Linked DNA regions of Homo sapiens: all the other regions are linked to region 3. Evidence: fine-mapped expression QTL. A gene starts in region 3. Each other region holds a variant in brackets. All regions are shown on one strand. Distances are between the middles of the regions.

Region 1 (4,243 bases), 270 kb after region 3:
GAGTCCACTATCGCTGGTCTGAAGTTTGTTGAGTAATGGAAGGGGAATCCAGAAAAGGTGTTTGAGGTCATACTTGGGCAGTCTTGAAGGACAGTCTGCAATTAACGTGAATGGCAATGGAGAGCCTTTGCAGGGTGGTAGTATGCCTGCAGCCACACAAAGACCACTCTCAGCTAGGAATTCATAATAGTGCAATGTATTTTTACTATTGTAGAGATCATGTCTTAAATATACACGATAGCCTGTCCCAGAAGAGATCTACTCAAAACTTTTTCAGGGCATGAGAATGTACACTCAGTCTTTGAGAGTGATATTAAGTCAATTGCAATAAACCAGCAACTTGCACTTGTCATAGATTTAGTACACACACACTCATGCATACACAGTAATAGATCGAATTTTAAAGTCAGTTCTGAGTTTGAGGGTATTTACATGTGTCATTTTCTCTTTCAGTTTCAAAATTCAATGTGTCAATATATAAAATTTAAGAATAAATGTATATGGCAGGGTAATTGTTCAAGAATTAAACTATATGCCAACAGAACATTGGCAGGCTTTATTTTGTGACATTTAGGGATCTTGTCTTTGCAATTTTTCCTTGTGGAAAAAGAGGTAGATTGGAAATCATTGCAAATCAAAGTGATGCTTTCAACCTCTGAAACAAATGCTAGCTTGTCTTTTTCCACTTTTCATACATTTGCATAGATCTGTCAACTGAATCTGAATTTTGTTAAGGGTAAAGTGTAGTACAAAGTTATGAACACCCGCGTACCACAAAATTGCTTTGCCCCCTCTTCTTCAGTTCACAGCCCCATGTCCTTCCCCTCACCCTCTCAAGAGCATGTTCCTCTCAGAAGATTTGGAAAGAGCTTAATGAGATGGAGTCAGAGCCTTAATAACAAACTAGTCACTGCCAAACAGAACAGAACTTTTAAGTAGGAGATGACCTCTCCCTGCCACTGTTCCTTACCTGTGAGTTGTTTTGTTTTGTTTTGTTTTTGAGATAGGGTCTCGCTTGCCCAGACTGGAATGCAGTGGTGGGATTTTGGCCCACTGCAGCCTCCACCTCCTGGGCTCGAGCCATCGTCCCACCTTAGACTCCCGATTAGCTGGTACTACAGGTGCTAATTGCCAGCATGCCTGGCTAATTTTTGTATTTTTTTGTAGACACAGGGTTTGGCCATATTGCCCAGGCTGGTCTCGAACTCCTGGGCTCAAGCGATCTGCTGGCCTCAGCCTCCCAAAATGCTGGGATTACAGGGGTGAGCCACTATGCCTGGTCGAGTTTCTGTGTTTAATTGCAGTTCTACAGATAGTCAGAGAAATGTGTTTTCAGATGTTTCCCAGTGAAACAACCAGGATTATCTCCTGGCCAGATCCGAGTACTCAGGTGTGCATTCCCCTGGGGGAGAAAATCTGCTCCTGGCTTCAGCCGGGTCAAAAGGCCTCAGAAGTGGGAGGATGCAAACCCAACTGGCACATGCCACTAGCCCATCTCCTTCAACTGTCATTTATGGATCTGTACAGGGATCCAGCGATTCATTTGACTCCGATTGGCTGCCAGCTCTGTTCTACTGTGTTGTCAGACACCACTGCAGTTTGCAAGAAAGTCAGCTCTGCTTGCATTTGGGTTACTAACCACAACTGCCAAGGACTTGAAAAGAAATAAAACCCCGGGGCAGGCAGGGTCTTGATTCTGTATATGTTTTGTTGTCTGTTATTTTTATTCCAAATTAATAGTGCAGATCAAGCCCACAGTTAAATAACACATCTGCCTGGGGTTTGGGTAGCAATTCACAATATGTTTTTATTCATTATTGCTTTAATTATGGCTCAGAATTCCTTTGAATCTCTCCCAAGTAACAGGTGGTTTTCTGACCATGATAAATGCTAAATGCTGCTCAGGATAAGGCAGCTAAGGCATTGTTTTCCTAGCTGTGGTTACACCTAGGCCCCAGGCAGCTTCTGAATTAGCAGCCTGCAACAGATTGGAATTCCTGGGGGACTTCACTTAACCCTTAGTTCTCCCAAACTTGTTTTCAATGCACTGTTGCGTGGGGGCTCCTCGTTGCACCCAGCTGTGCGGCAGATGTGCTTTTTGTATTCTGGGAAGTAGCAGGAGGGTTTGGGGTAGGTCAAAAAGTTAATATGTCAATGTTCTGAAGGGAGATGGGAGTAGAAACTTGGTGATATTAAAGATGATTTGAATTTAGATTCTTAAAAAAAGAATAAAAGCATTTTTTTATATATCTGCAATAGATAACAATTAAATAAGTCACACATGAATCATCAAAATTAGAGTGAGGGCAACGACCTATTAGATCATCTAGCCAGTTCCCCAGTGAACACAGAATTATTCCCCACAGTGTTTTCAGGGGTGCTTTGTACAGTGTCTTTTGAAAGACTTGAGCAATTGAGGCCTTCAATTATTTCCTTAGGGAGACACTT[C/T]CCCTTATAAAAGGCCATAGTGTTTTCCTCCTTTGCCTGATAGTCAAGCTAAAAAAATAAATGTCTGTATGGTACATGCAAAATCATTTGCACAATGACACTGATCAGAGGTAGAAATTATACCTATAGGTCTCCCAGAAAACAGTGAGCATGCAGTTGGCATTCTTCCCTGCACTCTCATTTCAGGTTTTTACACTTGAATTTGCATACTTCATGGAGGTGGCAGTACTGAAATATCTCCGGCAAGCCTCCCTGTTTGCAATACCACTATTGCAAACTGGTCAGAGGTAACATTGCACCTCTTAATTTGAAACTAGGGGGGAAAAGCTGTTTTGAATAAATTCTGTTCAGACTGTCCATGTTGTCAGGGTAGAGAATACTCAGTCATCCAGGAAGTAGCAACTGCTTAGAATTCCTCTCTCTTTGGAACAGACTGGTATTGTCTTTCCTGGGTTGTTTGTATTGGAGAGGTCGCCAATTGTACACACACGTGACGGGGGCTGTAGGATAGACAGCCCCCAGTTTTCAGCCTTTGAAACCTGGAGCTGCAGAGCCAGTGCCCGTAGGTGGGGTGCTCACAAGGCTTCCTGCTGAGTTGCCATGGCTTGTGTCACAGTGCCCTTAAGGGCAGTTTTCAGTTCAAAGAGGTCAGATTTTGCAGAGTTATAGACAATGGAAGGGACAAATTGTCTCGATTTCCAGAACTCAAGAACGCTGTGACTTGAACACTCCTATCCTAGTCCCCTCCGCCTTCATTAGAGTCCAATGTGCCAGGCAGTGAGTTTGGAAATGGCAAACAAGGAATCAAATTTCCCACCTTGGAGGACCTCATGAGGCAGGCAGGGAGGCGTGGAAATAATTTTGAAGCATTGGAGTGAGGGCTATGAGATAGGTAAGCAGGGTGGCCACACAGTACAGGGAAATGGCACTCAGGAAATCCTGGGTGTTGGAAACTTCCCAGGGAAGCGGAACTGAAAGGACAGAAGGCAGGAAAAGCAGAGGAATGCAAACAAGAAAGGAAGTGACCAAAGCAAGGCAGAGGCATAGGGAGCAGTTCCAGTGGGCAGGGAAGTGGGAGGGTGTGGGGAGGTGGGGCTGAGGTAAAGCACCAGGAAGCCTTGCCTGCCATGCCAACTTCAACAGTCTAGAGAGGGGGCTTGCCATCATCAGTTTGGAGGTGAGGACGCTGTGGTTCAGAGAAGTGAGGTGGCTTCTCCGAGGTCACACAGTCCAGTGAGAGAGCTACGATTTAAACCAGGTCCGTCTTAATCCACTGAATGTGCTATATCAGGAGAGAAAGGTATGCTGGAGTGCAAATTTGGAGTGGGCATATTTGTGGCCTCCTGAAGGGAACAAGTGGCTAGAGGAGCTGCAGAGCTCTGCGGGGCTTGAAAGGTGTCCATAACCTTCCATTATCCACCTTGACCAGGACAGAAGCATTAGTTCATGGGAGAGCAGAATTTGGTTCCTGCAGAGTTTATCAATTCTTATAATTATCCAGAATGACTCATGTTGCGGCCAAACCAAGTGCCTTCTGCAAACGGGCCATCCAGACCAGGGTTGAGTCAGCTGCGTCAGTGGGAGCCACACGGGGCTTGTGGCCATGGTCAAGGCAAATATGTAGGTTTGTGGTCAAGGCCTTCTAGCAGGCATGAGAAATATGGGGAAGTCATGGGAGCACTTCATGCTTCAGAACTAAAGGGAGGGATTAGGAAGACAGAGCAGCAGAAGCAGGAGGTGAGCACTGGGGCATATGCAGTGCGTGTGGGTGTTTGGGGTGCTTGTTTCCATGTGG
Region 2 (4,209 bases), 140 kb after region 3:
ATTGTCAGTGGGCATCTATAGAAGATCTGGAAAAAGATAAGAGAATTCAGCAAAAAATTAAACGATTTAAGGCAAAGCAGGGCCAGAACAAGTTCCTTTCAGAGGTACGACATACCTGCTTACTTTTCCAAAGTATTTACTTTGTTAAAATGTTCTAAATTTAAAATTTTAGTTCCATGAATTAAGAAAAACTAGTTAGTCTCATTTGGTGCTGTCAACTTGCATATTGGTAACTGGTTCTTGCTAACAAATTTGTAAACAGGAAATTTCTCATTCTTCCTGTTGCTTAGGCTAGAAGATATGGGTCCTTATGATATTATGTGGAAATAGCGGTGATGGTATGATAAAAATCGTGTAATGAAAGTACAGTTAGCAGATGATGAAATTAAGTAAGTGGACAGAAGTTCTATTGAGATTTAGCAGGTTAAGAAATCTACAATGTTAAGTACAAGTTCTAAGATACAAAAGCTTGACTTCTGTTGGGGAAAGTATGTGGCAAATTTCTTTTGTTGAAGTCAATGCCTAATTACAGAGAGTTCACTAAACTCATTTTCGCAAATGCTGTGCTGTAGTGTAGAAACTGGTAATAATATCTTTGCCTGTGTCCCTTTATCCCAGGTATCAGTATAGAAGTACAGCAATACCTAGGGCAGAGAAGAACATCTGCATTTACTAGAAGTGCCAGTTCTGCCCTCTGCCTCCTCAGTATAGTCAATTACATTTTTTAAAAAGTGCTTTCACAAGCTGCTTACTAGGGTCTCTGGACTTAGGATCGCCAATTTGGTTTCACTTACAGCCTCAAGTAGATAAAAGAAAAACCCTAACATTGAAAGATAAGACTTGCTGATTTATTAGTTCCTCTTTTCCTAAAAGAGTTGACAGAATGTAGACTTTATGTAAAAGAAGCGTACAATTTGATGCAAAATAGTATCTGTTTAACAACCTACTTTGTACTGCCACCCCTTTTTGGAGATGAAGGAAAGTGGGACAGAAGAGCACTTAGTACTTTTATGTCATAAAATTCTTATACTATCAGGTAGCAAGTCTGTGTTCTTCTGGGATCTGATTTCCATGGTCCCAACTGGCCTATGGTAAAGTCCGCATTCAATGGGAGATCATGTGGTTGTTCTTTTACTGGACACATGTCTGCATCACTACCCCTGGCACTCTGAGTGTGCAGCATTTTTGGCAGTGCAGTGTTTAGGACCGAGTGGAATGGAGTTACTCGAATGTGACTCAATTCATAGATCTTGGAGAATATTAAGAAGATTCTTCAGAAGAACTTGGAGGAAAATTCTTTTGAAGAAAGAATCTTAATATTTGATTTTGAGGACAATGCTGTGAGATTCTATTTTTCATGCCCTTCTTAATGAAACCAGAGTTAAATTTTTATGACATTGGATGAGCTGAAATCATTAGCCTCCTTTTAGAAAGAGACACCCTGTGTTCTGCTGACCTTTTCTGTGGGCCAGGGGGAGGGAGACAGGCAAAAGCGCAATGGTAGCTTTCCCCCCATCCCTAAATCCTGGTCCTGTTTATTAAGTTTATTTGTATTCTCTCTCCTGTAGTCACACTGTCTTTAGGAAATTGTGCCTAGCCCTAGCTACACATACCAAGGTTGAATGTACATTATTTACCTGGTAACTTGGCAGCTAGAAATCTTAGTTTCTGTCCTGAGTGGGAGTTAGCAGAGAAGGATAGCAATCCCCTTCCTCCCTCTCTTTTATACATGAAAGTGCACACGCCCCCGTTTGTTTCATCCCATACATGATCATGGCTTCAGGTGTTCCATGGCTGTACTGCTTTGAGATTTTCAGTTTCAGCTGCTTTTACATTCTTTGTTTCTCCTTAGGCTGCCTTACAAGCCTGCTGCAACTAAAAATGTCTATTCAAAAACATCATTTAGACTGGAAATTTCGTCACATGTGTGATGCCGCAGATTACTCACTTAAAGGGTAGAAATGTGTAGGAAAAGTTAAGGATTTTAATTCAGCACTGACTGTGAAAGCTTATGTTTAAGAACAAGTTTTCCTAAAGAGAGTTTTTGCCATCCAAACCTAGTTTTGGGAAAGTTTAAGTGTTTCTGCTGTACATGGATAACACGTGTGTTTACCTACGTCTAGAAGCTTTTGAAAAGCCAGTGCATTAATACACTAATACTTTATATTAATTGAACATTTCAATGGATTTTTTTTTGCCTTACTAATCTACCTCTGTGTAAAAGCCTGAGATACTTGAGACATATGTTTGTGTTTCTGCTTTTTGTTTCATAATTCATGGTTCAAAGCTTCCCAACTGGGT[G/A]TTTTAAGAGGGCCGAATAGCCAGAGAAAGTTTGTTGTTCTTGAGCAGATGATGACTGAACTGCTTATCTTTTCCACCTGCAATTCAAGGGATAAGAATGGTGTCTAAGTGACTTCTAGTTTACCTTTTGCAAAATATTTTAATGCAGTTATGTTATTGATAAGTTAATTGAGAGGTGCACATAATAAAATGTGTCTTTTGTTTTCTAACATCTGAAACTTGTCTGACCCTAACTTCTTTTGGGTATGGCTTAGTCTATAACTCTTTTTTTGAGACGGAGTGTCGCCCTCTGTCACCTGGGCTGGAGTGCAGTGGTGCGATCTCGGCTCACTGCAACCTCCGCCTCCCGGGTTCAGGCGATTCTCCTGCCTCAGCCTACCGAGTAGCTGAGATTACAGGCACCTGCCATCATGCCCAGCTTATTTTTTGTATTTTTAGTAGAGACGGGGTTTCACCATGTTGGCCAGGCTGGTCTTGAACTCCTGACCTCGTGATCCGCCTGCCTTGGCCTCCCAAAGTGCTGAGATTACAGGCGTGAGTCACTGTGCCCAGCCTATAACTTTTTTTTGAGTCATATTCTAGTGTTTTATATGAGATACCTTTGCAGGCAGCAGTATTACTTTACTTTTGTAAAGATTGTTTAATATATTGGTTAAATGAGCCAATTATTTAGGCTTCATTTCGTTATCCTTAATACTTTTGCCTAAACACACTATATTCAATGTAAATCATTAGAAAACAGATTAATGATGAGACTGTGATTCTAAATGAGGTACTAATATTGGTTGACAAATACTACCAAACATTATAAACTCTGATCATGCTAAAATATGAAATTAGCTGCTTGCAGTGTATTTGGCTTTTGAATAACATTTTGTAGATATGCTATAAGGCATCGGACAACTCCAGGAGTTACAATATTCCAAGTAACACTTTGCATGACTCTGATTCTTCATTGCAAACTGTAGTTTCGAGAATGCTAAATGCATCGCATGCCATAAGCCTTTTGGATTGCTCATTAGTGAATTGTAATTTCACACTTCATTTAAAATATTCTTAAACATTCTCTCACAGTAAAAGGTTTCACACGGTAATTAAAAGACCCAGTTAACGAAGTCTGAGAAGTCTGATTTCCTCATGGGGAGTGATTTTGCTAAATTGTAGCATTTCAATTAATATAATAGAATTTGCCAAATGTAAGTTTTATATTGCTGTGACCCAAAATATTATTGCTTGGTGAAAAGTGGAATAGTATTTCATCTTAGGAAATAAGTAAACCTTTAACTTTTTTTTTTCCCTTTGGTGTAGATTGAGGATGAGCTTTTTAATCCAGATTATGTGGAGGTTGACCGGATAATGGACTTTGCACGTAGCACAGATGACCGGGGAGAGGTAACAGGAGATCATTTGTATTACAAAGTGGTGATTCAGGCAACCCATACATGTTTATAGAGAAGATGGTAGAATCCTAGACCTGGTCTTGGTCAGAGCCTTGGACTGTGACACACTTGGTCTAAATTTAACTGAAACTTAATGATTTATTATTAGTTTTATGACTTAATAATAGTGCTAAATATGTTTTATGTTTAGTCTGAGAACTTTTTTAAAAAATTGATTTTCAATATGAAAGAAATACATTGACATTTTGCACAATTCCACAATATGATAAAGAATTCAGTACATTTTGGTATAAATCTGTCATGTAGCACAAAGTATCCTTATATAATTGAGTGTCTCTTGTGGCAGAATGGAGTTTAAGGTTATTTAGAATTGGGCATCATTAGTGAAGTTGATGAATTCATTTAATGTGGTACACAGAGGCTAATAGACATTATTTCTCTTAAAAGATCCTAGTCTCAACACTCTTATTTTGCTTTGCAAAACTCTGTAAGATTATAAGGGATATTT
Region 3 (4,243 bases):
AGCAACCCATTGAACCAATTTACACTCATCTGTGAAAGACCAGTAGCCCCTTATCTCACCCTAAGGTATTTGCATACTTAAAGAGAAAGCTTGTGAATTCAAATTACTCTCATTGGGAAAACTTCAATAGTGAAGCAAATGGAGAAAAAACATTTCAGGCTAAAGGGGAGTGTTGGGGGATGGTGGTGGTGTGGTGAGAGCTATGACTCAGGTAGGCCAGATCTGCCTAGGAGTTTGCCCCTGAGGGCCTCTACTTTTTAAGGCCCCTTACGTTCCACACCACCACAACATCTAAAAGCTTAGAGACTTCTTCATGATGGCTCAGGGCAGTGATCAGGATAAGGAGACTATAAGTCAGAGGACTTATATTCTGTAGGACTGTTTTTACATTGGGTACTGGTATATATCAAAAGGAAGTTTCCTAGCTTTCGAGTTAAATGTACAAGAGCACAGGGAATCTCCTCATAGTCATATTTGTTGATAACAAGTTAATTGCAATATTGTAATTTCACTATATGTAGATGTCATTTTTTTTCTCCTGTGAATTGCCTTGAAATAGATGCACATCTGATATCGAGCTGTGGCACACTGTAAAAGATAAGACATAATTTTTTATGGCACATTATTTTAAAAATGTGTTCTAATATAGTCAGGTACTAGCGATTTTTTTTCTAGACATTGTGTCCTGTTTTTGACCCCCCCGCCCCACACACCCCTAAAGCACCTTTCATATACTTTCATTGGGAAATATAAACTTAATGGAAACAGTAGCCTAACCTCAGAGTTGTGATTCTTGGTTTGTGATACCGGGTTTAAAACAGATGGAAGTTGATTTTAGTGGTTTCAACTTTTTAAATGCCAGAATTCTTTCTGTACTGTCTTCTATGTTCTTTTTGATGATCTGTAAGCTCCTTAAACATTAAAACATTTATTTCTTTTAGAACAAAACTCAAATACATGATGAAAGCAAGCTAAAAGCAGTGCATTTAACAAACCACAATATAATGTGATATATTTATAGAATTATTACTAAAATCAGAAAATCAATGTCTTAGTGATTAAGTCTAGGATAATCAAACTTATTGAATAGTTGCAGTAGTTACTTAATGAGATAGTTTTGATTAATCTTTTGTCCAAATAACAATATTGTGATTACAGGCTTAGCACTACAGGTAGTGTAACCATCAGTGAGTGAGATTAGTACATTTTACATAGTTTTGCTATTTTCTCAGTTTATTTTGGAGTCCAGTAATAACCAGTCAGTCTGTACCTGCCATAGGGCAATCTTTGGTTGATATGAGTTCCTTTCCTGATTTTAAAATAAGTGCAATCTTTAACCTAATAAAATTATCTTAAAGTTTACAATTGATGGTTTAAACACATTATAATTGCTCCGTATTTTGCAGATAGAAGAGGCTTAATCCATGTTTGTAGATCTATTTCCTAAAATAAAAATTAGTAAAAAAAAGTTTTTTTTCTTCAGGTTTAACATTCATTTTGTACCGGGAAGAGAAATGGAATAAGAGGCTCGGATTTTTAAGACTATGCAATCAGATACAAGTGCCATTTTGGCCAAAGAATGAGTAAAACATTCTAGTCCCGACACGTTTAATAATGGGCATACATCCTATTTCTTTGTTTCATAATCATTGAGCTCTCTGCCTTCTCTCTCTTTTTTGGTATGGTAACAAATTCGACAAAATCAATGCCATCTAGTTAAACTTTTTGATTAAGTAGTGGATCCGGTGTCCTATCCACGAAGAGGTGGGAAAAGCGATGTGGAGAAGCAGGCACGAACCCATCTGGAATGGAACATGTCCCTTCCGAATAATTTCATGTGGGAAAATAATTTCAAGTTGAAGGATAATTACTGCAGAGACTGCCAGTCACCCCCGGCCGCCGCCGGCCGCGCAGCGTCGGAAACCCTTCGCGGCAGCCAGGAGGGTCGCAGCCCTCCCGGAGCCCCGCTTCCTGCCCCGGGGCGGCGCACCCGGCTCCGGGAAGGTGCCGCGCGGGAGACGTGGCAGCAGCCCCTCCAGTCCGCGCCCGGGCGCAGCGGCCGAGCGCTCCGTGCAGCCGGGCAAGGAAGACTCCGCGGCAGCAGCGCACCGGCCGGCGGGGAGACCCGCCTGAAGCGCCGGCGCCCGCCAGGGGACGGGAAGTGGCGCCCGGCCCGCCCTTGCGGCCCGCGGCCCGCGGCCCAGCAGCTCCGCGCCGCCCCTTTTCTCTCGGCCTCTCCCTCGGCCTCCGCCACCCCGGCCGAATTCTTGCATAAATTATGCCAGGCGCGCCTGACGTCAGGTGGCGGCGCGCGGGCGCGGGCGCGGGCGCGGCGCGGCCCGGAGGGAGCTGGCGGCGGGCGCGCGCGGCCCCGCGGCTTCGGGTGCGCGCGGCGTGCCGGACGCGCGCAGGCGCTGGCGTGCTGGGGCCGCGGCGGCGGCGGCGGCGGCGGCGGCAGCGGCGGCGGCGGCGGCGGCGCGGGGGTTGAGTCGTGGTGGTGCGGACGCGCTCGTGCTCGGGAACTATCGGATTAAACTTGAATCGAGTGAAATTACACAAAGGAGCGCCGCGGAGGAGGCGGCCCGGGGACCCGGACACCCTGAAACTCACCAGAGACCCGTTCGCCCCCGGCCAACTCCGTGCCCGTGGATTCAGCCCCCTGGCCGCAGCTGCCGAGCCAACTCCGGAGCCCGCTCTGCGTTTTGTTTTCCCCTCGGCACTAGGCAGCGGAGGAGCCCGACCGACCCGGTGAGCGCGAGAGTTCGCCCGGCGCCCCCGGGAGGGGCGGCGGCGGCGGCGGCGGCAGGAAATCGCTCCGGGCCGGGGCCGGGGCCGCGCTAGGAGTTGGGAGCGAGGAGTTGGGCGTGTGCGGGGCGAGGGGCGAGGGGCGAGGGCGGGAGGGGGCCGGGGCCAGCGCAGGAGCGCAGCGCCGCCCGCGTAGTGTCGCCGGCGTCGCCGCCCGCGGGGCCCGAACCCGCGCCCCGAGCGCCGCCCGGCGCCCCAACTTTTGCCTGCGTCCGCCGGGCCGGCGGCGGCGGGGGCGCGCGGTGCGGCCGAGGGTCACTTCCTCGCATGTAAATGGCTTTTTGTTGTGCTGCCGGCGTGGGGGGGGGGTACGGGGGACAGGAGGGAGCGTGTCTGCGCGCGGGGGAGCGCGAGCGCGTTTCCTCCCGCCGGCGCCGAGCACGAGTTGCCGGCTCCATTCGAGAGAAAAAGGAAGGAGGAAAAGTTGGGCTCCAACTCAAGTGCGAGCGGGCGATGGGCGCGCGGGCGCGGGGCGGCTGAGCAGCGGCGGCGGCGGCTCGGGGACGGCGGCGACCCCCGCCTCCCGCCCCCGCCCCCCGCTCCGGACCGACCACGCCGCGCTCGCCGGGAGCTGCGGCCGCACCGGCGCGAACAAAGTGCGTTCCTCCCGGCGCGGCGGCGCCAGCCCGCGCGGGGACCGCCACCGAGCGAGGTGGGTCGGCGGCGGGGAAAGTGCGCGGGGCGCCGCGTGGGGCGGGGGCAGCGCGAACACGCGGCGCGGGAGGCGTCCCGAGCTCAGCCAGTGCCGGTCGCGGGCGCGGAGTTGCGAGCCCGGAGTTGGGGGCTCCTGGGGCTCCCCGGCGGCTCCCAAGTGCGCTAGGAGGAGAAGAAAGGGAGCGGGGCCGGGGCGAGCGCCGGGAGGCGCGGCGAGGAGGGGACCCCACCTTGTCGAGCTGGCCGGGCCGCCGGCGGCGGCAGCTGCATAATAGCGACTTTAACCTTCCAACGCAACTCGGCTCCCCCGCCCCCCAACCCGCCGGGGGTCAGCGCCGGTGGGGGGTGGTCACCAGGTGGCCCCCGAGGTGACCCGGGTGCGCTCTGCCCTCGCAGAGAGCCGCGGCTTGGAGCGTGAACGGCCGAGGTGGCTGGAGGCCAAGCGGTCAGCGGGGAGAGGAAAGGAGGGCGGTGGGGGACGCGTTGTTTGTTTGGTTCGCACCGGGGATTGGGCTCGCTGGGGGCGCGGGGCTCGGGCGGGGGCGCGGGCACCGGCTGGGCTGCGGTGCGGGGCGGGCGCGGCGGCGCGGGGCTGTCGAGGTCGCGGGGGGGGGGGGCGGGGGCGGCGGCGGCGGCGGCTCCCGGGCGGGGGTGGGGGCGCTGGTCGGGAGGCTCTGGGGAAGGAGCCGCCGGCCCCGAGCAGCCATCATTACCGAGCCGCCTTTCTCCGGATGGCTCTGCCTCGAGGAGCCCGGAGCCGTGGGAGCGCACCCCAAACTCCCGG

What was found. PIP is the estimated chance that this variant, and not a neighbour inherited with it, causes the effect.
Region 1: its variant is the best candidate, but not a certain one, in a credible set for the expression of CHD7 in blood mononuclear cells (TOPMed, PIP 0.53).
Region 2: its variant is the best candidate, but not a certain one, in a credible set for the expression of CHD7 in whole blood (TOPMed, PIP 0.71).

Annotation. Positions count from the first base shown.
Region 1 is chr8:60,947,101-60,951,343 of GRCh38, forward strand. No RefSeq gene overlaps it. Among named protein-coding and RNA genes, the nearest start is that of CHD7, 270 kb to the left of the region's middle. RefSeq lists an enhancer at 3,720-3,979. The variant C/T (reference allele first, on the strand shown) is at 2,449.
Region 2 is chr8:60,816,398-60,820,606 of GRCh38, forward strand. It overlaps CHD7 (chromodomain helicase DNA binding protein 7), which reads left to right. Exons shown (of 38, transcript NM_017780.4): 8 at 1-104; 9 at 3,610-3,693. Among named protein-coding and RNA genes, the nearest start is that of CHD7, 140 kb to the left of the region's middle. RefSeq lists an enhancer at 595-694. The variant G/A (reference allele first, on the strand shown) is at 2,302.
Region 3 is chr8:60,676,335-60,680,577 of GRCh38, forward strand. CHD7 (chromodomain helicase DNA binding protein 7) reads left to right here and starts at 2,406. Exons shown (of 38, transcript NM_017780.4): 1 at 2,406-2,748. RefSeq lists silencers at 1,954-2,393, 2,754-2,853, 3,514-3,883.